Linked DNA regions of Homo sapiens: all the other regions are reported to be linked to region 1. Evidence: microRNA targets listed by miRTarBase, many of them from high-throughput screens and not tested one by one. Region 1 holds a microRNA gene; each other region holds the end of a gene's coding sequence.
The links. The annotated mature microRNA hsa-miR-4772-3p reads CCUGCAACUUUGCCUGAUCAGA and lies in region 1 at 1,938-1,959, shown strand. An mRNA with a match to its seed (bases 2 to 7 or 8) in the 3' UTR can be bound and repressed. Matches are read on the target gene's strand: a 7mer-m8 pairs with bases 2 to 8, a 7mer-A1 pairs with bases 2 to 7 and ends in A, and an 8mer does both.

Region 2: the mRNA of SPATA21 is a reported target of hsa-miR-4772-3p. The part of its 3' UTR that is shown has no 7-base or 8-base seed match.
Region 3: the mRNA of ZKSCAN1 is a reported target of hsa-miR-4772-3p. Seed matches in the 3' UTR shown: 7mer-m8 at 1,234-1,240.
Region 4: the mRNA of IDS is a reported target of hsa-miR-4772-3p. The part of its 3' UTR that is shown has no 7-base or 8-base seed match.
Region 5: the mRNA of A1BG is a reported target of hsa-miR-4772-3p. Seed matches in the 3' UTR shown: 7mer-m8 at 598-604 and 7mer-m8 at 867-873.
Region 6: miRTarBase lists RHBDL2 as a target of hsa-miR-4772-3p. Seed matches in the 3' UTR shown: 7mer-m8 at 3,173-3,179.

Annotation. Positions count from the first base shown.
Region 1 is chr2:102,430,399-102,434,398 of GRCh38, forward strand. It overlaps MIR4772 (microRNA 4772), which reads left to right and starts at 1,891; the gene lies at 1,891-1,968. The region is part of intron 3 of IL18RAP (interleukin 18 receptor accessory protein); the gene reads left to right.
Region 2 is chr1:16,395,439-16,399,544 of GRCh38, reverse strand. It overlaps SPATA21 (spermatogenesis associated 21), which reads left to right. Exons shown (of 13, transcript NM_198546.1): 12 at 24-201; 13 at 723-902. The coding sequence ends at 780. It overlaps SZRD1 (SUZ RNA binding domain containing 1), which reads right to left. Exons shown (of 4, transcript NM_001114600.3): 4 at 1,400-4,106. Among named protein-coding and RNA genes, the nearest start is that of SZRD1, 30 kb to the right of the region's middle.
Region 3 is chr7:100,033,788-100,037,893 of GRCh38, reverse strand. ZKSCAN1 (zinc finger with KRAB and SCAN domains 1) reads right to left here. Exons shown (of 6, transcript NM_003439.4): 6 at 1-4,106. The coding sequence ends at 3,697. Among named protein-coding and RNA genes, the nearest start is that of ZSCAN21, 14 kb to the left of the region's middle. RefSeq lists enhancers at 1-62, 63-564.
Region 4 is chrX:149,479,450-149,483,555 of GRCh38, reverse strand. It overlaps IDS (iduronate 2-sulfatase), which reads left to right. Exons shown (of 9, transcript NM_000202.8): 9 at 338-4,106. The coding sequence ends at 810. Among named protein-coding and RNA genes, the nearest start is that of IDS, 24 kb to the left of the region's middle.
Region 5 is chr19:58,343,439-58,347,544 of GRCh38, reverse strand. A1BG (alpha-1-B glycoprotein) reads left to right here. Exons shown (of 8, transcript NM_130786.4): 7 at 1-192; 8 at 516-2,362. The coding sequence ends at 523. Among named protein-coding and RNA genes, the nearest start is that of A1BG-AS1, 6.5 kb to the left of the region's middle. RefSeq lists a silencer at 1-53 and enhancers at 1-250, 304-583, 251-751.
Region 6 is chr1:38,882,854-38,886,959 of GRCh38, forward strand. It overlaps RHBDL2 (rhomboid like 2), which reads right to left. Exons shown (of 8, transcript NM_017821.5): 8 at 2,954-3,830. The coding sequence ends at 3,651. Among named protein-coding and RNA genes, the nearest start is that of GJA9-MYCBP, 3.3 kb to the left of the region's middle.

The DNA.
Region 1 (4,000 bases):
TTGTATGGAATATCTTTGTCCGTTTTTTCCCTTCTAGTCTATATGTGTCCTTATTAGTAAATCTCTTGAAGGCAGCATATAGCTGAATTTTTAAATGTCTTTTGATTGGAGACATATTGTAAATGGTTTGATTAATCCATTTACATTCAAGGTGATTATTGGTAGATAAGCACAGGCTGTTGCCATTTTGTAACTTATTTTCTGTGTGTTTTGTAGGTTTTTTGTTACTTATTTCTCTGTTAGTATCTTCCTTTGTGTCTTGATGGCTTTCTTTGGTGCTATGCTTTGAATCTTTTATATTCATATTTTGTGCCACTACTACACGTTTTTGTTTTGTGGTTACTATGAGGCTTCCATAAAACACTTCATAACAGGCTAGTTAAGCTAATAACAACTTAACTTTATATACAACAAGTACACTTTCATTTCCTCCCCGCTACCTTTTATGGGTTTGATGTCAAATTTTACATTTGTTGTAGTTTCTGTTTCTTAATGATTAATTACAGCTAGGATTGTTTTTATTAGTTTTGTCTATTAACCTTCATAGTAATGATAAATTGCTTTATATACCACCCTTACATTATTAATGAATTATGAATATGACTATGTATTAACTATTACCATTGAATTTTTTACTTTCATATTTTTTGTTATTAATTAGCAGGCATTCATTTCAGTTTAAATAATTCCTTTTAGCAATTCTTAAAAGTAGACCAAGTGGTGATGAACTCCCTTAGCTTTTGTTTGTCTGGGAAAGTTTAATTTCCCTCTCATTTCTGAAGGACAGCTTTGCTTGGTTGGCAGTTTGTTTGGGTTTTTTTCCTTCAACACTGAATATATCATCCCACTCTCTCCTGGCCTATATCGTTTCTGCTGAGAAATCCACTGATAGCAATATTGGGACTTTCTTGAACATGATATGTTTCTCATCTCTTGCTACTTTCAATATTCTTTCTTTGTCTTTGAATTTTTGACAATTTGATTATGATGTATCTTGGTAAACCCCTTTTGGGTTGAATTTGATTGGCAACTTCTGAGTTTCCTATGCATGAATGTCATCTTTCCCTAGATTTAGGAAATATTCAGCTGATATTCCCTTAAATATGCTTTCTGACTTCTTTTTTCTTCCATCTTCCAAAATTCCTAATATGTGAATCTTGAAGGTGTCCCATAATTTCCATAAGCCTTTTCATTCTTTTTTCTTTTTGCTCCTCTGACTAGATAATTTCAAATGTCATCTCTGACATCACGGATGCTTTCTTCTGCTTAATCAAATCTGCTGTTGATATTATAGTTCAGGTATTATATTCTTTATCTGTAGGATTTCTTTATTTTTCAAATACCCACACTTCAGGGAGAAGGATTTCTATTTAAAACTTTTTTTTCTATTTCTCTATTATTAAACTTTTCATTTTGTTTTGAAAATTGTTTTTAAAATTTATTTTATTTTTATACATATTTTCTTGTAGTTTCCTAAACTACTTTAAGAGGATTATTCTGAAGTTTTGTCAGTTATTTCTTAGATCTTTACTTCTTCCTATTTCATTATGATAGCTTTCTTAGTTTCTTTTGATGGTGACATATTTCCTTGATTTTTCATAATCATTGTTCCTTGCATTGGTGCCTATGCAGTTGAGGAAACAGCCACCTCTTTTGGTCTTTGTAGGTGATCTTTGGTGGTAGCAGACCTTCACTATGTAGTCTAGCCTGGGATTCCAGGTGGGCTAGTTGGTAGCAATCCCAGATAAGCAGACTTTGGTGTTGAGTTCTCTAGGTGGGCTTGGCTGTTTTCTGTGCACTGAGGTCAAGTGGAATTGCTTGCTGTGCTTTGCGTTCCAGTGAGACCACTTTCTGAACTCTATGGTCAGGTTGAGTCGCTGGCTGAGCTCTGTGATTGCCTCTGATCAGGCAAAATTGCAGACTGTCTTCCCAAATAGCCTGCAACTTTGCCTGATCAGAGGCAGTCACAGAGCAATACCCTTGTGTCTTCCATTCACCCACAACATGAAGGAATTGCTTAATTAACTAAAAGGGCACCCAAATGCCCTACATCTGGCCGAGAAATACTGTTGTTAGAATGTGTAGTTGGGCAGGACAACAGGCTAGGCCCTGAGGCAAAGTTAGTTATCTGGGATTGCTGCTCAGCAATTTGGGATGGGCAGGGGGAGAAACTAGGCTACAAAGATGTGTGTGGGCTTGATCTTACCCCTGGGCCAGGGATAGCCTTAGGCAGGGCATTGAGGCTTGATTGGGTTGCCACGCACCTTCTGGACCTGGGTGGGGCCAGCTGCTCCTTCTGCAGATAACTGCTGACCTGCCTTTGCCTCCTGGCCTGGGGAAGGCTGCAGGAAGGTGCTGGAGCCTGGCTGGGTCACCATGCTTGGAGATTATTAATTAAAATATTTAATGACTGAAAAAGTCAGAATTAAAGTGAGTTATTTATTATTTATGCTACTAACTTTTTCTATATATTTTTCTAATTTCTAAAAATGTAATGAAAAAATAGCCTTGGCATAAACAAACTTCATCTTAAATAAATAATAGTTACATGTAATGTAACGGCATTTTATGATCTTCAGCTAAGCAAATCCTTGACACAAGTCAAAATTATAATCAAGGGTAGTAGGAAAGTCTCTCCTGTACTGGCCTAGGGCACCGAGATATGAGTTTTGACGACATTGCTGTGACCTCCTGTTAGTAGGACTTGCACCTTGAATAACATTTCCATTGGTGGTTTAAGACAATCTCACTCATGCCACATTCTCTTGCCACACTTCTGACATGGCTGCTGGGTTGATTTTAAGCCCTATGTTGCATGGAAGGTTTTTGTTTGTTTGTTTTAGAGATAGGATCTTATTCTGCCACCTAGGTTGGAGTACAGTGGTGTAATCACAGCTCCCTGCAGTCTTGAACTTCTGGGCCCAAGTGATCCTCCAGCCTTAGCATCTCAAGTAGTTGGGACTACAGGCACATACCACTGCACCCAGCTAATTTTAAAAATTTTTTGTAGAGAAGGGGTTTCACTATGTTGCTCAGGCTGGTTTCAAATTCATGGTTTCAACCAATCCTCCTGCCTTGGCCTTCCAAAGTGCTGGGATTACAGGTGTGAGCCATCATGCCAACCACAAAGAAGTTTGTTTGTTTTTTGAGATGGAATCTCTCTCTTTGTCGCCTAGGCTAGAGCGCATCTAGCTCAGTGCACTGAGCTAGAGACTTGGCTCACTGCAACCTCCACCTCCCAGGTTCAAGCTATTCTCATGCCTCAGCCTCCCAAGTAGCTGGGATTACAGGTGTGCGCCACCACACCCAGCTAATTTTTGTATTTTTAGCAGAGATGGGGTTTCACCATGTTGGCCAGGCTGGTCTCCAACTCCTGACCTCAGGTGATCCACCTGCCTCGGCCTCTCAAAGTGCTGGGATTACAGGTGTGAGCCATCATGCCGACCCCAAAGAAGTTTTGTACCTATACCTGATACTTCTCATTTCCTAGTTCTTGTAACTGGCACCTGTTGGCATCCTGTGGGCCTAGTGCTGTGGATAACTGGTAAGCATGGTGAGACTGGCTAGATTCAAAGATTAATGTGTTTCTAAATAGAGAATAAGTTAATTTAATGTGTTTCCAAATAGGAAGAAGATAATTTAGATTATATTTCTCAAAACTGTTTCTAGGGTTGAAACATTGGCCCATTTGATTATTCTCACTATGAACATTTCAGAACTCTGAAGATCTGGACAGCTTTCTAACACCTGTTCAAAACAATCATCTGTATGCTGTCTAACCAGCACTGAAACAGAGGAAGAATTTCCTTACTTGTTCAGAACAGAATATTGCCACAGCCCCACTATTGTTTTAGCTTTGGGACAGCCTCATTATATGGTTGATTTATTCTGAGTTGGCAGGCAAGTCTTTCCACAAAAACTGAAATCAAGCAAGTTCTCTCTATTTTTGTTTGTAGAGTAGAATTTGTAACTTATGTTCATGATTTTATATTTATTTCTG
Region 2 (4,106 bases), not on the chromosome of region 1:
CCTTCTGCCTCCTTCTTCACCAGCTCCCAACCTGCAGAGCCCCTATGCCCAGGTGCCCTGCATCCTGCTCTGCCCACAGCTGGACAAGAAGATGGTCCGTAGGCAGCCGAGCAACCACTATGCACTAGACCAGTGCACACCCCCTGGCCTGGATCCTGACATCCGCAGCCCCTTCTTCCAGTCAGGATCTCAAGGAAACAGGTGGGTGCCCAGAGAAAGGGTCCCAGCCCAGGCCCTTCCAGATTCTTCCTTAAGAGGCCCCTGGCCTAATGCCTGGGAATCCATCTTTCTAAGAGATCATACCTGAGAGGCTGCTTGCTCCAGGGAGGAGAAAGGGTAAAAGGCGAAGAAGACAAACCTTTGTTGAGGGCCTGTGTACCCAGCAGATTGTTCCACTGAAGCCAGAGTGCTTCTGCTTTCCTGTGTCCAGGACTCAGTGGCACCTAACTGAGTACTCTGAGTTCCCTATGGTTCCATATTAGGACTAGCAGACTGTGCACCTGGGCAGAGGGGAACGTCTCCTGCAGCAGTCCCCCTCCAGGCCGCTGGGGAAGGGAGCTCTGGACTTGGAATCAGGCCCCTAAGCACAACTGCTGGTTCCACCATTTCTGAGGGGAGGCCTCCTCTCTCTCCTCACTTGGGCACGCACAGATGGCTCATATACTGGCAGATAGGGAAAGGGCCACATGTCTCCCACCCTTCTGCCCTACTCCTCTCCCCAGGGAACACAACTCTGACAGCAGAAAGTGGCTCAGCTCTGTGCCAGCTCGAACCCACTGACCCTCTGGAGGCCTGACTCTAGGCAGCTGCTCAAGGCCTGTAGACAGATGGGCCACCAGGCAGGAGCTGCTGCTGGGATTTGCTTTTGTGGCCTGGTGAGCTAATAAACACCAATAACTTCAGCCTCTGTGCCTCTTGCCAAGAAAGGCCCTCAAGTTGTCACCCAGCCACCACTGGGCTCTCAGAGTGCAGGGTTCCACCTCAAAGCCCTGCGCGGGGTTGGGATTTCTGCTACAGGTGCCCCTGCGTGCAGTCTTGACCTTCTGTGCCTTCTCAAAGCACAGGGCTAGGCCTCTCCTCAGGTGAGCACATCCCCCTCTGGACTGGGAGCCCCACAAAAGCAGCCATTCTCTCTCTCCACTGGCTCTAAGACAGGCCCTGTGGAAGAGCAGGAGGTGGCCTCTGCATGCTCCCCCGACAGAGCCCCAGGACCCAGGGCTCTCATTCTCTGGGAGCCCCAAGAGGGGTGGGTCCTTTCCCCTCAACCCACATACCACCCGGCCTCGTGTTTTACCAAAGACAGTCTTTCCCTGGGACTGGGCAGAGGGAAATCCCCCAGGGTTAAATAAGCGGCCACAGCAAGAGGTAGAGGGCAGGGACTGAAATGAGGACAAAGATCTGACAAGTTTAAAACATGTATTTAAAATACAATTTATAAAATGCTTAATCTGCCGACTCAGGAGCCCGCGGTGCAGGGTGGGGTGGGAGTGGGCAGCTGCCCGCTACACCAGCAGAGTAAGACTGCAGGGGTGCAGCCCTCCCTCCCATGCCCTTCTGTTCAGACACCCAAGGGGCCCATGTGCACCCCTGGGATCACACGACCAGAAAACAGGACCCCAGAGGTTTCTTGAGTCTCTGCTTACCAGGGAGGCTGGGTACAGCCCTGCCAGCCCATCCCTGAGCAGGGCACCCCCAGATGGGGCAGAGCAGGGTATGGCTGGGCAGGGCAGGGCTGGGCGGGGCAGATGGGCTCTGGAAGGGGCTGATGGTAGCAGATAGGGTGTTGCCTCCTGCCTGCAGGTGGGGAGCACCCTGATTGAGTGGGCTGAGAAAGGTTGGTCACCAGGCCTGGACCCCCCAGCTCCTTTGGTTATAGGCTGACATCAGAGTAGTGGCTCATGGGAAGCGGTTAGCTGGAAGGTCTGAGGCCTGGCCCATGGGGTCAGGGAGGAGCTGGGGGAAGGGGACAGTACCGTGAAGGCAGATAAAGGGGCAGCAGCCTCAGGTTTCTGCCCCCCATCCCCCTGGGGTTTTCCAAGCCAAAGCCTGCAACTTACTTTAAAAAAGAAAAGGAAAAAAAGCACTTAGGAAAGTTACAGACAACTACCCCCAAAAAATACCCTCCCACACACAAAATCCAAACCGTTTCCTCATCTCCCTCCCGCCTCCCCCGACACAATACAGTTTCCTGTTTTCTTTCTTTTTAAAAACGTTGCCTGCTACCTCTCCATTTGGGAAGCCCAGGGCATGACTGCTGGTGGGTGGTGACAGGCACACAGCGGGCAAAGCCCATCTTTGGCCAGAGGGAGGTGGGAGGACCAGTCCCTGCCACATCCTCAATCCACAGACACCCACCAGCCAGCCTTTACTTTGGCCTCCCACTAGAGGGTAGTGGGGCAAGAACAGGTGGTCCCAATGGCTGGGCAATCAGCACTTCTGGCGTTCCCACCTGGACTACCTCTATACCCTTCTCCAATTAAAAGGAAAGTCTCACTTTGGGCGGGAAACCACTATTACATAAGGGATGGACACTACACATTTAGAATGTGGACACTTGGTTAGGGCAGTGGAACTATAAAGATAGCAGCCAGTTTTCTTCCTTGCCTTCTCCTGAAGGTAATCCTCCCTCTTACTGACTGAAGCTCTGGTTCCAGCTCTGCTCATGGGCAATGCCTGGCTTTACAGTTATAAGGCTGTGCTATGGACTAGCTGCTGACTCAGCTGGCAGCTGGCCCTTCCTCCGGAGGAGAGGACGTGTTGGGGCATGGCTTACTGGGCCTGGCCTACCATTCCCACAGGGAACCAACGAGGGAGTGAGCCTGTGAGACTCAGCTTGCCACCTTGGCCACCACGTGCTGCCCTCATCACAAAAACCACACCAACCACTCCGAAACGTATCTGCTGGTCAGGAGCAGGGAGGCTGTCTGGCTGGCTGAGGGATAAGGCGCAGTGCAACGGAAGGGATCAGGAAGCCTGAGAGGAGCCAGGTACACACAGCTGCTCTGGGCAGCTGCCCTCTTAGTCTCTTCCACCTCAAGGAGCCAAAGCAAACCCCAGGCTCCAGGGACAGAGGATAAACTGCCTTCATTCCAGGCCCTCGCTCTGGAAAAAGGGGTGACGGGTAGCCTAGGCCTCTGAGGAACCAGTCTGTCATCAATCTTTGCAAAGCAAAGCTGTTCTTTTTCCAACTTTATTCAGAATGTTCTGCCTTCAAGGTACTGATTGCACACAGGAAATGTACCAGGTATAGTTACTGAGCTGGGGCCACCAATGGAGATGGAGCACTGCAGACCCCTAAGAGTTCAAGCCATGCTGGAGTGGGAAGACCTATCCACCTTCTGAACATACGAGGCAGAAGGCTCAGAGTCCTGGAGGCAGACTCTCTCCTGGTTTTCCTTGTGCTGATGGCAAAATACTAAACAAGTCTTCTCTCCGTCACTTCTAAGCCCAGGGATGCAATCTCACTCCCTGGCACTCTGCTTTCTTCTAGAAGTAGTAAGCCTGGCTGGTAGGGAACCACCCTGAGGGGTATGGGAAGGGGAAGTCGGTTCACTTTCCCTATCTCCCAAAATACTAGAGGTGGGGTTGGCACCCTCCCCAGGCTCTCCGAGCCTACAGAGCTAGCCCAGTCTCCAGGCAAGGCCCAGATGCCCTGGGACTTAGCTCGGGGAGGGAGGTATAGGCATGGGGTGCTCGTCTGTCCTGGCGGCTGCAGAGCCCTGCCCCTTTTCTGGGCGGCAGTAGGAATACAGAAGCTAAGCTCACCAAAATCCTATTGGTTAATGTTTCTAGTGAATTTCCCAGAAACATTTTTAAGTAGACTACCAAACTACCCTTTCTTAATTAAAAATTCATTAAACCACTAAAACCCCTCCCATGCACTTTTTCTTGCAAATCAGATATTTGTATAAACAAACAAAAATAGGAAGAAAAAAAAAAGAAAGGATATTTTCAAATGGAACTTACTTTTTAAGTGATGGAGACATGCACTTGGGGGTGGGTGGGTGTGAGTTTTCATTTGTGTTTTGAAATCCCAAATTAATGAGCATGATAAACTGTTATTGCTGGCACTGGCTTTACCCCAAGTGGCCAAGTGGCACTGTCTG
Region 3 (4,106 bases), not on the chromosome of region 1:
CGTGCGCCACTGTGCCCAGCTAATTTTTTTTTGTATTTTTAGTAGAGACAAGGTTTCACCATGTTGGCCAGGCTGGTCTCGAACTACTGACCTCGTGATCCGCCTGCCTCGGCCTCCCAAAGTGCTGCGATTACAGGCGTGAGCCACGGCGCCCGGCCAAGATTGAGCTCCCTCTTGCAATGTTTCTCAAATTCATCACGATTGGAACATACCGACGGAATTCATTTTCTGTCTGAAGCAATGAGTGCTATACATGAAAGTTTTCCTCACATATAATATTCATCAAGTTTATTTACAGTATAAGCTTTCCGATGCTAAGGGCTGAGATGTGATTAAAGGCTTTGCCGTATTCATCACATTCAGGAGGCTCCTTTCTGGAATAAATTCTCTGATGTCTATGTGAACTGTCCCACGTATCACACGTCAACCTCTCTATACATATTTAGCAGTTTCACTTTTATGCCTTTAATATTAAGTGCTTTACATATCAAGATGTCTCATAGATCGATAATCTCAGGTTTTAGCCTTGCCTGCCAGGCTGGAGTAGAAACAAATACCCCACAACCTGAGGATTTTACTTCTCTTCCTGGCAAGGGTAGGGTATATATTGAAAAACTCTTCAAAAATTTCCATTAGGACAACTAGCATGCTAATGGTTAACTGTAGAATGTTTCAACTGTTAACAGACTTCAGCGGGCCAAGAACTTTTGAATGACTATCTTGAACGCCAATTAGATGTTGCAAGCGTTTTTGACCATGACCCAATTACACTTTGCACTGAGCATCTGATAAACGAATGCACTGCAAGTGGTTTTAATAAACAGTTGTAGCCTGTTTTCCTCAGAAAACACATCTTCAAATAGCTGCTTCAAGGACAGCATGTGGCTGAAGATCGAAGCAACCCTAGTGGCAGCTATCCAACAAAGTCAGGAAGATGTCTCCATGAAACGGAATTAAATGTGAGGGCACAGGTCACATTTAACCTTCATTTAAAAACAAAACTCAAAAGTGATGGCTGAGTTATATCAGCATATAGTTGTGGCTGAAAGAAAAAAAAAAACCAAAGGCCAATGTAAACATGACCAAAGTCCTTTCCCTCTTAAAAAATAAGTGCTTGGGTCGTTGCCTGGAGTTCCACACCTCACTTTTCAGTTTCTTTCTTTCTTTTTTTTTTTTTTGAGATGGAGTTTTGCTAGTCACCCAGGCTGGAGTGCAGTGTGCAATCTTGGCTCACTGCAACCTCTGCCTCCTGGGTTCAAGTGATTCTCCTGCCTCAGCCTCCCAAGTAGCTGGGATTACAGGTGCCCACCATCATGCCCGGCTAATTTTTATAATTTTAGTAGAGACGGGATTTTACCATGTTGGCCAGGCTGGTCTCAAAACTCCTGACCTCAGGTGATCCGCTCACCTCGGCCTCCCAAAGTGCTGGGATTACAGGCGTGAGCCACCGCACCTGGCCTCAGTTGCTTTCTAGAGGGCAAAAGTCCTTGCTCAAAAGCACAGGAGTTTTCTACAAAACCATTGCTGTGGCTTATTCTTTGAAGAAAATCCTTAAAACATTTTCTGCCTCCATTTTAGTTACTTAGATATACTCTTCTGGAGTAATGGGTTTTTCTTCCGTTGCATGGGTAGAAATATCCTAGTGACTGGTTGACTTGCAACACGTTTTCCCAAGTAATGCTGATGAAACTGCTTAGAAGCTATAGGGAAGTTGTAGTTGGTTTAAGTCATAAAGCCAAGGAGAGGCCAAAGAATGACCACTGTGCAGTTTTAGCTCCCACTTCGTTGGTTCCATATAAAACCATTTGGTCTCATGGACTTTAGCTGCTGATCAGTGAATGACTGATGAGTAATAGTTTTAGTATAAGTTTCTCAAGGGAAAGTCTCAAACTATATATGGGGTTCTCTTGTTATGGGGAGGTCACACTGATAGTCTTGAGGTTTGTTCTCAGTCTATGTTTCTGTTTCCGCAGGGCGGTCCTAGCCTTGGGTAGGACCCTTGTCCTACTTGAGTGGCGATGACTACTTACACAGCTCACAATCTCCTGTGTGTGAAACAGTCTCCTGCCATCAGCTTCTAGGTAGCCAGTTGCACCCTGCGCACAACGATGGGACCAATGAAAGTTTCATAACCTCACCTCAGTCTTTAGTGATAAGAAACAGAAAAGTCACTGTGCACTATGACGATGGCACAGCCAGCCACATCTCAGTACACTGCTGAGTTTCTCAGAGCAACAAAATACATTTAGTAATTGCCAGTGAACAATTAATGCTTTTGCAAAGTTACTGGAAAAGCGTGGGAAAAAACACTCCCTACCACGTTCCTTTTTCTGAAAAGCAACAAAAATCACATCTTCTGAACTCCAGTATCTAAGTACAAATGATTCAGAAAATCCCCAAATCATCATACTGTTCAGCAGCTAACTGCAAAGAATTCTAAGAGCTTTGCCACAGAAAGATGTCAAAAAAAAAAAATGACCTTCATCAGTGTTCATATTTTTCTTCAAGATGACGATGATAAAGTCATTTCTGACATTCCATGGTATTTACTCACTGTTTAGAAAGTCTATGCAGGCGGCTGACTAGTGCCTTTCGTTTATATTTGGAACAAAAACAGCATCAGACCCTAGAGGTTTAGCATGCCTTGTGGCTACGAAGGTCCTCTTTAGAAGCTGGGCCAGGCTACCATATTTCAGGGACTCACGATTCACAGGCTTTTATCACACACGTAGAAGTCCTGTAGAAGTCAGTCTGAATGAGTGCCTCTTAGGTGTTCAGTACTCACTATGTCCAGCACTGTGCTGGCAGGGATAGAAATATATCCCTTGACAACCGAATCTTTTTTGGGGGTTAGGGGGTGATTAAAAACTTCATACATGAAACAATGAAGGATTAAAAGACAGTATACAATCAAGTGCTAACTTGTGGAGAAATGCATTTAGGAGTGCGATAGTGCTTTAGGGATTTCAAGAAGGGAGAGATGTATTTGGAGTTGTTGTTGCCATTTCAGTAGAACTGATCTCAGGGATGAGGACAGAACCATCTACATTTGTTGCAGTCCTTTGGAACTGTAGACTGGTGCACATACCCTCTCTTTCGGGAAGAGATAGAAATCTTTGGTTTGATACTGATTAGCACAGTCCTAGATTTCTACAGCTTTGGTAGGCTACCAGTGATCATATATACAACTTATCGTATATATAACTACCTTGAGCAGCATGTCCCAATGTCGTTTTTGTTTTCACTGTCCCTCTTTTTTGAGAAATAAGCAGGATGTTGGCCAAAGTAGGGCTTGTTTGCAGCAAGTAGCATCCTAACCTCCGTATCACTTTCGTGGAGCCAATCTTGATCTTTCAACTATTATGTTGTGGTTGCCGAGAGTCCAAGAGTGCCTTAAAGGTATCCTCATTACTGAAAAGACTGACATTTCACTATGCGTGTGCTTTTCTCTTGTGTGGAAATCTCACGTGGATTATCCGTAAGATTAGCCTTTCCCTGCAGGGGCTGTGTGGAAGGATTATATGCCCAACTACTACATAAAGGCAGAACACTGCTGATGTGACTAGAAGGATCCTTAAGTGTGACTTTTGTTTTTTAATCTGTTGAGGCTGTATTTCTTTTTCCCTCCAGGAGCACACATCTCTGAAATAATTTTAGAAACAAAAGGGGGAAATGGCTTGATGGCAAATTCTTCCTTTACACACAACTTTTCAGGAACGCGCCAAATGCATCAAGGGAGGCTGGGCTGTACTCAGAGGCTCTCTCTCTGGCATGGATTCTGTGATGCAGAGTGAGGGTGGAGCTGCGGGTGAAGGCCTTGCCACACTTAGTGCACTTGTAGGGCTTTTCTCGAGTGTGAATTCTCCGATGCAAAATCAGGTATGAGTTTCGGTTGAAAGCTTTTCCACATTCACTACATTCATAGGGTTTCTCCCCCGTGTGAATTCTCTGATGCTTGGTGAGGTCCGAGCTCTGGCTGAAGGCCTTCCCGCACTCATTACATTCATAAGGTTTCTCTCCAGAGTGGATGCGCTGATGGAGGATGAGATTGGAACTGTGGCTGAAGGCCTTGCCACACTCGTTACATTCATGAGGTTTCTCTCCTG
Region 4 (4,106 bases), not on the chromosome of region 1:
TTCCTCAACAGACTCTTTTACCTAGTGGTTGTAGCCTTAATTGATGATCCTTGTCTGAGTCAGTTATTAAATCGGTGGTTCCAAAATTCAGGTTGTTTTAAAAAGCGCCAACAGCCTCGTGGGGCCCTAATTTTGCATCCTGCTATTTGATTGGATGAGTAATTAATGCAGGGTGAGGTGCCGAGGTGGTGTTTCTAAACGTCTGTTGCTAAAGATAAATGTTGTAAATTAAAAAAAGAAAACATATGGAGCCCAGACAGGTTCCTTTACTGCTCCTGCCTGGCCATGGCAGGCTTTTATAATGTAACCCATTCTGCTCTGTCGCTTCCTGTTTCAGGCAGGCAATCCATGGACCTTGTGGAACTTGTGTCTCTTTTTCCCACGCTGGCTGGACTTGCAGGACTGCAGGTTCCACCTCGCTGCCCCGTTCCTTCATTTCACGTTGAGCTGTGCAGAGAAGGCAAGAACCTTCTGAAGCATTTTCGATTCCGTGACTTGGAAGAGGATCCGTACCTCCCTGGTAATCCCCGTGAACTGATTGCCTATAGCCAGTATCCCCGGCCTTCAGACATCCCTCAGTGGAATTCTGACAAGCCGAGTTTAAAAGATATAAAGATCATGGGCTATTCCATACGCACCATAGACTATAGGTATACTGTGTGGGTTGGCTTCAATCCTGATGAATTTCTAGCTAACTTTTCTGACATCCATGCAGGGGAACTGTATTTTGTGGATTCTGACCCATTGCAGGATCACAATATGTATAATGATTCCCAAGGTGGAGATCTTTTCCAGTTGTTGATGCCTTGAGTTTTGCCAACCATGGATGGCAAATGTGATGTGCTCCCTTCCAGCTGGTGAGAGGAGGAGTTAGAGCTGGTCGTTTTGTGATTACCCATAATATTGGAAGCAGCCTGAGGGCTAGTTAATCCAAACATGCATCAACAATTTGGCCTGAGAATATGTAACAGCCAAACCTTTTCGTTTAGTCTTTATTAAAATTTATAATTGGTAATTGGACCAGTTTTTTTTTTAATTTCCCTCTTTTTAAAACAGTTACGGCTTATTTACTGAATAAATACAAAGCAAACAAACTCAAGTTATGTCATACCTTTGGATACGAAGACCATACATAATAACCAAACATAACATTATACACAAAGAATACTTTCATTATTTGTGGAATTTAGTGCATTTCAAAAAGTAATCATATATCAAACTAGGCACCACACTAAGTTCCTGATTATTTTGTTTATAATTTAATAATATATCTTATGAGCCCTATATATTCAAAATATTATGTTAACATGTAATCCATGTTTCTTTTTCAAATCTAAAGTTAAAAAAAAATAGCAGAAGCCAGTGTCTTAAAGTCTATCTTTTGTTTCTAAGACCATGGGATTTCATAATCTCAAGATAAAATATGTATGAAGTAATTAATGTAGAATTTTTACACCAAATAATAAATAATGCTTAATAAACTAGAGATATGAGATGTGTAGGAAATTTGGTTAAACTTTTTTCAGATACTTTCTGGCCCAAATAATAATTTGTTAGCAAATAATATGACCCTTGAACTCAATGGCCATCTATTAAAAGACTGTTGTTCACACTGGAAAACATTTAAAGATGTGACTATATCCATGGGTGGATTGAATCACTCAAAATATATTAGTATCCTTCTTTAGGGATGGTTGGTTACAGACATGTATTTATTCAGGAGGCAGAAAATATTCCATTTTAATTGCTTATTAAAGAAAACATTAAATTCTAAATTATTTTGAGGACTGTGAAGACTTTTCATTAGTGTAATATTAGGTCATTGTCAATCTCCCAGAATGTAGTTCTATATTCTCTAAATATGAAAGTATCCAGAAAGGCCAGTGGTAGTAAAAAGCTTAGTGTATATAATCTCAAAAGGGATGGAATATTTACAACTCATATTTATAACATGTTGAATCTTCTCAGTTATCAGTAGTCATCAGAAGTGTCAATAGCTTTCTAAATAAATATTAAATATCTACTGTCCTGTAGTGAAGGAGTAATTTTTAGTAATTTTCTCTTTACAAAGTCTCCAGTGTTTCCAGGTAAATATTTGTGAAACAAAATACAGCAAACTACATTGTTACTTCAGTGTATTGTTGCCAAAAATGACAAGATATTATATTAAAATCAGTAAATTTTAGACAGATTTTAAAAATTAATTAGCCTACAATAGAGGTTATATGGTAACACGGTGATCTTCTAAGCAGTTAAGTGACTGACTGTTCTGGCAACAACGACTTCTCCGTGACTGAAGGGCCCTGTTCATTTCCTGATCCTGAAGCTCGTCTCTCTTTTGAGCCTCCGCTTGCTTTGGTCGATGGTTTCCCTCAGCTTTTTCTTTGCTGTTCTTCATCCTCGTTGTTGCTGTCATCATGTTCACTGTGGCTTTTACAATACAGCCTGTAAATTCCTTATGACATAGTTCAGTGCATTTGGCTTTATTGCCTGCTCCACAGTTCTTTACCTTTACTTGGCTTAGAGAAACTGTATCTTTGTTGCTTCATATAACCTTTCCCCAACCCCACTAAGCTGGACATAACTTATTAGTGGTCCTCCCGTCACTTTATTTGTAGAAATCTCTCTTTCACATGAGCAGGGGTTCTTTCATGTGGTTTAGCTGACAGCAGAACTAGTGATTCTAGACATTTTGCATGGCCCTCATTCAGTGGCTCACAAACATGAGGGAGCATCAGAACTACTTGAGGGGCTTGTTAAAACCCAGTGCGTTAGAAGTCGGATGCGGTGGCTCACACCTGTAATCCCAGCACTTTGGGAGGCCCAGGCAGGCGGATCACTTGAGGTTAGGAGTTCAAGACCAGCCTGGCCAACATGGTGAAACCCCGTCTCTACTAAAAATACAAAAGTTAGCCGGGTGTGGTGGTGCATGCCTGTAATCCCAGCTTCTTGGGAGGCCAAGGCACAAGAATCGCTTGAACCAGGAGACGGAGGTTTCAGTGAATGAAGATCGTGCCATTGTATTCCAGCCTCGGCAACACAGCAGGACTGTGATTTTCTTTGGAGACTCCTAGATTTTCTGTGGTTTTGAACTGAATTTGTTGGATGTTGGCAAGTGCCTCTTATGAGCTGTTTCTTTATCCTGCATTTGCCCCACAAAGACTTATCTGGAGGTGAGCAAAGTATGTTTGGTAGTGAGGTCACAAAGGCAATCAGCCCCTTCCTCCCCACTCCCATTGCCATCTTCTCAGTCCTTCTCCCTTTCTTTCCAAGTAGTTTACCCACCCCTCCTCTTTCCTCCCCTGTCCCTAAAATAATCCACGTGTCTTCCTAAAATCTCTCTTTGATCCTGTCCTTTGATAACACCGTCAGTGCCTACTACTGGGTCTAGACAGACCTCTGTTGAGCAGTCAGAGTCTTCCCTGACTCCACAATGCCCCTTTCCTTGGCTGACCAGTATGACTACTGGTCCCCACCTTTCCCTTGCCTATCCCTACCTCCCTCCTACTAGGTTGTCCCATCCCTCTCTTCACCCATTCATTCATGACCATTTTTCACTACCAAGCTCCCCCCCTCCCGAAGGAGGCTGAGGTTTTTGTGACTCTCTAGACTCTATTGTGGGATGGAATGAACATTGCTAAAGAATCTTGTGTTCGCTTTACTTTAAAAAGGTATTTTTTTCCTAATTATAAAACTGATGTGTCAGTTACGGAAAAATTAGAAATGCAGCACAAATACATGAATATTTTACCACAAAATTGCCATATAATATCTTGTCTTTTTTGGGGGTGTGAATTTTTTGCATTGTTCTGGTCATATTCTTTATCATGTAATTTATGTTCTTTTTTACTAAGTATTATGTGTGGTTATTATAGATTTTCACAAAGATATATTGCTGGTAATATATTTTATTGTGTAGTCTTATAATTTACTTAACCTTCTTTCAATTGTTAGAAATTTAGGCTATTTCCAGATTTTCAGTATTGTAAATAATGCTGTGATGACCAATTTTGTGAATAAAATGTTTTTATGTATTTCAGATTATTCCCTTAGGATAGTCTCTCAGTGCCAAGTTGTCAAAAACATCTCTATTTTGCTTATCTTCC
Region 5 (4,106 bases), not on the chromosome of region 1:
TCACCTTCGAGCTGCTGCGCGAGGGCGAGACGAAGGCCGTGAAGACGGTCCGCACCCCCGGGGCCGCGGCGAACCTCGAGCTGATCTTCGTGGGGCCCCAGCACGCCGGCAACTACAGGTGCCGCTACCGCTCCTGGGTGCCCCACACCTTCGAATCGGAGCTCAGCGACCCTGTGGAGCTCCTGGTGGCAGGTGACGTTTCCCTGGGTCCCGGGTGCTGGTTCCGTCTGCTGATGTTTGCCTGGGCTGTGCCCACCTCCAGGAGGGCCTCTCCCGGCTCCTCCCTTGGGCACCCCTGGTTAGCGCTGGGTCTCCCCAGGGCTCGTGGGGGAATTGCGGGCGAGGAACCGCCCAGCAAAGGCCCTGCAGCTGGAGGCGCAGATGGGGGTCTCGGCTGGCAGCCGACCACGCGCTTCCTTCCGGGGGGGCGTCAGGGAGGTCGGCCTTGATTTCCGCGAGGAGGAGGGCATAGGATTTCCCCTCCTCCACCATTTCTCTTTTCTCCCGTTGTCTAGAAAGCTGATGCAGCCGCGGGCCCAGGGTGCTGTTGGTGTCCTCAGAAGTGCCGGGGATTCTGGACTGGCTCCCTCCCCTCCTGTTGCAGCACAAGGCCGGGGTCTCTGGGGGGCTGGAGAAGCCTCCCTCATTCCTCCCAGGAATTAATAAATGTGAAGAGAGGCTCTGTTTAAAATGTCTTTGGACTCCCAGGGCTGAGTGGGCTGGGATCTCGTGTCCTCAAAGTGGATGGGTTCTGGGGTGGCTCCTGAGGTAGAGGAGTGGAGAACTGGCTCTTAAGAGCACAGTTTTCTTTTCTTTTTTCTTTTTTGAGACAGGGTCTCACACTGTCACCCAGGCTGGAGTGCAGTGTTGCAGTCCGGCTCACTGCAGTTTTGACCTCCCAGGCTCAAGCGATCCTCCTGCCTCAGCCTCCCAAGTAGCTGGGAGCCTGGGCATGCATCGCCACGTCTGGCTAATTATTATTTTTTGTAGACAGGGTCTCACTGTGTTGCCCAAGCTTGTCTTGAACTCCTGGCCTTAAGTGATCCTCCCACCTCAGCCTCCTGAGTAGCTGGGACTACAGGCATGAGCCACCATGCCTGGCCAACTCACATTTTTCTTTCTATTATTTATTTTTTGTAGAGATGAGTCTCACTATGTTGCCCAGGCTGGTCTTGAACTCTTGGGCTCAAGTGATCCTCCCGCCTCAGCCTCCCAAAGTGTTGGGATTACAGGTGTGAGCCACAGCACCTGGCCAACCAACACTTCTCAGGGCCTCTTTCATCTGTGCTCTTCCAGGATGCTGCCTCTTACTCCCTGGGCACCTCGGCCTGGTCCCAGCAGGTATGGGCAGTTGCTTGAGGCTCCAGACATACTCACCTCTACCTCGACCACATCAACCCCATCACCAAGAGGAGGTTCAGGGAAGCTGCATTTTGTGGTCTTGTCCTCCCAGTCCAGGGTGGTAGTGCTGGGCTGTTCCCAGCCTCCCACAGCAGAGCTGGACGCTGTGGAAATGGCTGGATTCCTCTGTGTTCTTTCCCATTATCCCTCAGCTCTGAGTCCTCTTGTGCCATCTGACATCTGATGCCTTCCCAACCACTGCCGAGTTTCTGCCTGGAGCAGGGCCTCAAGGCCCTGGCACACAGAAGATGCGTATCAGTATTATCAACCAATAGTTGATGAATTGTGTTTTTCAACGAATTTGCTAGTGATCTGGTTTACTGCCTTAGTAATATCTAGTTCCTAATATGCCTATGCCTTTTAATGTCTGCACAGTCTATGATGATGTCACTTCTCTCAAGCCTGATGTGTCCTCTCTCTCTTTCTTGCTAGTGGTTTATCAATTTTTAAAACCTTTTCTTGTTTATTTGTTTTTGAGACAGAATTTTGCTCTTGTTGCCCAGGCTGGAGTGCAATGGCGTGATCTTGGCTCACAGCAACCTCTACCTCCTGGGTTCAAGTGATTCTCGTGCCTCAGCCTCCTGAGTAGCTGGGCTGACAGGCACCCACCACCACACCCAGCTAATTTTTATGTTTTTAGTAGAGATGGGGTTTCACCTTGTTGGGTGGCCAGGCTGGTCTCCAACTCCTGAGCTCAAGTGATCCACCCGCCTCAGCCTCCCAAAGTGCTGGGATTACAGGGGTGAGCCACCACGCCCAGCCCCAGCTTAGTTTTTTAAAAAGTTTATTTTAGCCATTCTAATAGGTATGTAGACATATCTAATAGTGGTTTTCCTTGCGTTTCCTTAATGTCTGATGATGTTAAGCATTTTTTCCCCAAGTGCTTAGTTGCCATCTATATAGCATCTTTGATGAAATGTCTGTTTATATATTTTGCACACTTTAAAATATTGGGTTGTTTTCTTTTTTCTTCTCTTTTCTTTTTTCTTCTCTTTTCTTTCTTTTTGAGAGAGTCATGCTCTGTTGCCCAGGCTGGGGTGCAGTGGCATGATTTCAGCTCACTGCAACTTCCGCCGCCCAGGTTCAAGCGATTCAACTCCCTCAGCCTCCTGTGTAGCTGGGATTACAGGCATGTGCCACCACACTGGCTGATTTTTGTATATTTAGTGGAGAGGGGGTTTCACCATGTTGGCCACACTGGTCTTCAACTCCTGACCTCAAGTGATCCACCTGCCTCAGCCTTCCAAAGTGTTGGGACTACAGGCATGAGCCACCGTGCCTGGCCTGTTTGTTTTCTTACTATTGAGTTTTGTTTGTTTGCTTTTGCTTTTTTTTTTTTTTTCCCGAATCTCACTCTGTTGCCCAGGCTGGAGTGCAGTGGTGTGATCTCGGCTCACTGCAACCTCCGCCTGCCAGGTTCAAGCAATTCTCCTGCCTCAGCCTCCGGAGTAGCTGGTACTACAGGCACCCACCAGCATGCCCGGCTAGTTTTTTGTATTTTTAGTAGAGATGGGGTTTCACCATGCTGTCCAGGCTGGTCTCAAACTCCTGACCTTGTGATCCCAACCGCCTCAGCCTCCCAAAGTACTGGCGTGAGCCACCGCACCCGGTCATTTTTTGTATCTTTAGTAGAGACAGTATTTCGCCATGTTGGTCTCAAACTCCTGAGCTCAAGTGGTCTGTCCACCTCAGCCTCCCAAAGTGCTAGGATTACACTGCACCTGGCCTCCAGCCACATTTTTTTTCTTTTTTTTTTTTTTTTTTTGAGACAGAGTCTTGCTCTGTCGCCCAGGCTGGAGTGCAGTGGCGTGATCTCGGCTCACTGCAAGCTCTGCCTCCCAGGTTCATGCCATTCTCCTGCCTCAGTCTCCCAAGTAGCTGGGATTACAGGAGCCCACCACCACGCCCAGCTAATTTTTTTGTATTTTTAGTAGAGATGGGGTTTCAACATGTTAGCCAGGATGGTCTCCATCTCCTGCCCTTGGGATCCGCCCACCTCAGCCTCCCAAAGTGCTGGGATTACAGACGTGAGCCACCGCGCCCAGCCGCCTCCAGCCATATTTTAAAGATAAAATAATTGTGCAATCTCTATTACTATCATTTAATTCCCAAAGTTCCCGCTTTCCCTCTGGTATCATTTCCCTTCTACCAAGAGTTTCCTTTGGCATTTCTTTTCAGGCAAGTCTGCTGGCAAGAAATATATATCTTAGGTTTGTTTCATTTGAGGATGTCTGTATTTTGCCTTCGTTCTTTAAGTGTGTTTGCACTGGATATAGAATTCTGGGTTGACGGGAGGCGGAGCTTGCAGTGAGCTGAGATCACACCACTGCACTCCAGCCTGGGCAACAGAGCGAGACTCCATCTCAAAAAAAAAAAAAAAAAGAATTCTGGGTTGAGTCTTTTTTTTGTTTGTTTTTGAAATGGAGTTTTGCTCTTATTGCCCAGACTGGAGTGCAATGGTGCAATCTCGGCTCACTGCAACCTCTGCCTCCTAGGTTCAAGTAATTCTCCTGCCTCAGCCTCCTGAGTAGCTGGGATTACAGGCACCCGCCACCACGCCCGGCTAATTTTTTGTAGACACGGGGTTTCACCATGTTGGCCAGGCTGGTCGCAAACTCGTGAACTCAGGTGATCCACCCACCTCGGCGTCCCAAAGTGCTGGGATTACAGGTGTGAGCCACTGTGCCCAGCCTTTTTTTTTTTTT
Region 6 (4,106 bases), not on the chromosome of region 1:
ATCATTCAGCAATTCAGAGAATAAAGATTTCTATGAACTAATAGAGAAAGGTCCCTAGGTCATGTTGTAAAGCAAGTTATAGAACAATACATGTATCACATTTATCCTGTTAAAACCTACATTTCATAAAAATATCTAATTAGAGGCTGGGCTCATGTCTATAATCCTAGCACTTTGGGAGGAGGCTGAGACAGGCGGATCACCTGAAGTCAGGAGTTCAAGACCAGCCTGGCCAATGTGGTGAAACCCAGTCTCTATTAAAAATACCAAAAATTAGCCAGGCATGGTGGCACATGCCTATAATCCCAGCTACCCGGGAGGCTGAGGCAGGAGAATTGCTTGAACCCAGGAGGCAGAGGTTGCAGTGAGCCGAGATGGCGCCACTGCACTCCAGCCTGGGCGACACAGCAAGACCCTGTCTCAAGAAAAAAAAAAATATATATATACACACACACACACACACACACACACACACACACACACACACATATATATTTAGCTAAAATCGATTAACAAAAACTTTTCCTAGTTGAGATCAATCTGAGAAGCAAATGATGCTTAGGAGGAGTTATACCATGGACACCTCTAATTTGTTCTTCAGATTTGTCCCTTTGAGGGTGTAGAGCAGATTCAGTGAAGTTCAATACAGTGGATGAGTTGGACATTAACTTAAATCCATTTTCCTTTCTGCTCATCCTACATAGAAAAATGTCTGCAAGGATACAGACCATACTGTTGTGACCACTGATGATGGTCAGCACTAGGGAAAAACAGCAGGTTTGAAGTGAGAAGGCAAAAGGAGATTTTTTTTTTTTTTAAGACAGGGTCTCACTCTGTCACCCAGGCTGGAGGGCAGTGGCATGATCATAGCTCACTGTAACCTCGAACTCCTGGGTTCCAGTGATCCTCCCACCTCAGCCTCTGGAGTAGCTAGAACTACAGGCAAGCACCACCACACCTGGTTATTTTTTATGTTTTTGTAGAGTTCTTGAATGTTACCCAGGCTGTTCTCAAACTCCTGGGCTCAAGCAGTCCTCCCACATTGGCCTCCCAAAGTGCTGAGATTATAGGCATGAGCCACTGCACCTGGCTGAGATTTTATCTTTTAACTTCTTGTTTGAATCTTTGTTTAACCAAGAACACACTCATAAGGCCAGGCATGGTGGCTCACACCTGTAATCCCAGCACTTTGGGAGGCTGAGGTGGGTGGATCACTTGAGGTCAGGGGTTTGAGACCAGCCTGGCCAACATGGTGAAACACCGTCTCTACTAAAAAATACAAAAATTAGCCGAGTGCAGTGGTTCACACCTGTAATCCCAGCACTTTGGGAGGCCGAGGTGGGCGGATCACCTAAGGTCAGGAGTTCAAGACCAGCCTGGCCAACATGGTGAAACCCCGTCTCTACTAAAAATACAAAAATTAGCCAGGCGTGGTGGCAGGTGCCTGTAATCCCAGCTACTCAGGAGGCTGAGGCAGGAGAATCACTTGAACCCAGTGGGTGGAGGTGGCAGTGAGCCGAGATCGTACCATCGCACTCTAGCCTAGATGACAAGAGCGAAACTCCATCTCAAAAAAAAAAAAAAATTAGGGACCGGGCACAGTGGCTCACACCTGTAATCCCAGCACTTTGGGAGGCCAAGGCGGGCAGATCGCCTGAGGGCCTGAGGTCGGGAGTTCGAGACCAGCCTGGCCAGCATGGTGAAACCCCGTCTCTACTAAAAATAAATAAATAAATAAATAAATAAATAAATAAATAAATAAATAAATAAATTAGTCAGGTTTGGTGGCGGCCACCTGTAATCCCAGCTACTCAGGAAGCTGAGATAGGAGAATCACTTGAACCCAGGAGGCGGAGGTTTCAGTGAACCAAGATCCGGCCACTGCACTCCAGCCTGGGCGACAGAGCAAGACTCGGTCTCAAAAAAAAAAAAATAATAATTAGCCAGATGTGGTGGCGCATGCCTGTAATCCCAGCTACTCTGGAGGCTGAGGTAGGAGAATTGCTTGAACCCAGGAGGCAGAGGTTGCAGTGAGCCAAGATCAGCCCACTGCACTCCAGCCTGGGAAACAGAGCGAGACTCCATCTCAAAAAAAAACAAAACAAAAAAAAAAACACTCATATTCCCATGTTTATACTTAAATTTAACTTTTTAAACAAATTTCTGATCAGTTTTTCTCAAAATACTAAAGTATTAACTTTTCTCACTATATCTAACTAAGTGTATATGCCCCTTCCAGATACAGTGACATGTTTAGATGGGTGTTTAATAAATACATTGATGATAAAAGAAAAAATTATATTTCCTATATTCAGATGACCCAAAACTACCATTTCCAAAAACATAATAAACCACAGTCTGAATTCTATACAGGAAAATGACACATGCTTCTCAGCTTTCAGGTATGACATTTTACCTTCTGTAAATAAATCCTACCCACTCCTAGGAGAGCCATGACCCACATGAAGGATGACAGTCTGATCACAGATGAGAATCTGAAGTCTAGGTATATAGTGTGCACCAGAAAGCCAGTGCCCGGTTCCTTGGGATCTTAGACACGGTATCAGAATCTTAAACTAGCAGTCCAGAAAATCCTCAGTCTTCTTCTATGAGATATTTCCACCATTCATGGTGTACCCCGCATAGATGTTTGTTCCTGTACTCCTATGATACCCTTCAGTGTTTGGGGAACACAGCATTGTTGGACCTATAGGGGAGACTACAGGTTTCCAAGTCATTATCTATGTTTAAATTCTGCTCCCCTCAGACAAGTACTTAATTCTTTAAGGGTTCCTTTAAGGGATTCTTTAAGATTACTCTAAGATGCAGAGTAATAACTACCTTTCCGGGTTGTTGATAATATTATCAATAAAGTGTGTAAAACACCTCAAACAGTAGTGATCTATCTCCTCAAACAGTGATCTATTTTAAAGTGATTATCAGGAGTCTGACACAGGTATAAAAAGTTTTTATTATCAGCATTGTACAGTATTCATAGATTTTATGAAGCATTCTCCAAAATATATCCTCCAAGGAGAGTAAGTCTGTTTTATAGAATACCATATGCCTGGGAAAGACCCAATCTCTAATTTTGTTTTGTTTTGTTTTGTTTTTTGAGACCGAGTGTCGCTCTGTCACCCAGGCTGGAGTGCAGTGGCGCAATCTCGGCTCACTGCAACCTTCGCCTCCCAGGTTCAAGCAATTCTCCTGCCTCAGCCTCGCAAGTAGCTGGGACTACAGGCACACGCCACCACGCCCGGCTAATTTTTGTATTTTCTTTAGTAGAGACAGGGTTTCACCATATTGGTCAGGCTGGTCTTGAACTCATGACCTCAGGTGATTTCACCCGCCTCAGCCTCCCAAAGTGCTGGGATTACAGGCGTGAGCCACTGCGCCTGGCCCCAATCTCTAGTTTTTACTACCCTTCTTTTCTCTCTTCTTCTTCCCTTTCTACATTAAGAAGCCCCTTCCTTAAATCCTAAGGTCCTTTTATAGGCAATCTTTGCAACTGATGAGTTTAATGCTGTTTTGTCCTCTATATAAAATTGTTAGCCTTTTCTGAGACTTCTCTGTTTCTTCATAGAGTCTTCCTTTTTTTTTTATTTCCTCCAGATGGCTCTTTTTATTAATTGACTTACAATAGGGGCAGGTCAGTTTGCTGGAGATAGGAAAATGTTGAAAAACACAGCAAATAAGACACAAGCTAAATATGCAGCAATTGCTATCCAAAACCTTGGATCTTTCAGCAGTGCTTTATCAAAGCAGCTAAACACCGTGTAGCCAATGGACATTCCAGCAAATCCACCTGCAATGTGAGCTGCAAAAGACACCTTGGGAGAAAAGGAGGGAAAATGGAAATAAGTGAAGACAATGCTAATTGTGTATTTCAGTTGCATCTCTCTTATTCAAACACAAATACCGTCACAGTTAAACAAGAGTCTTAAAGGTCTAGAGAACTAGGGGTAAGGCAAAAGAGACACAAAACTCCATGTGCACAGAGAGAAGGAGATACTCTGAAAGATACAAAGCTTAAAAATGTCATTTTCACCCATTCTTAGAGTACAAAAGACAGAGAAATTGTTTCTCATTCTTAATCATCATTGCAT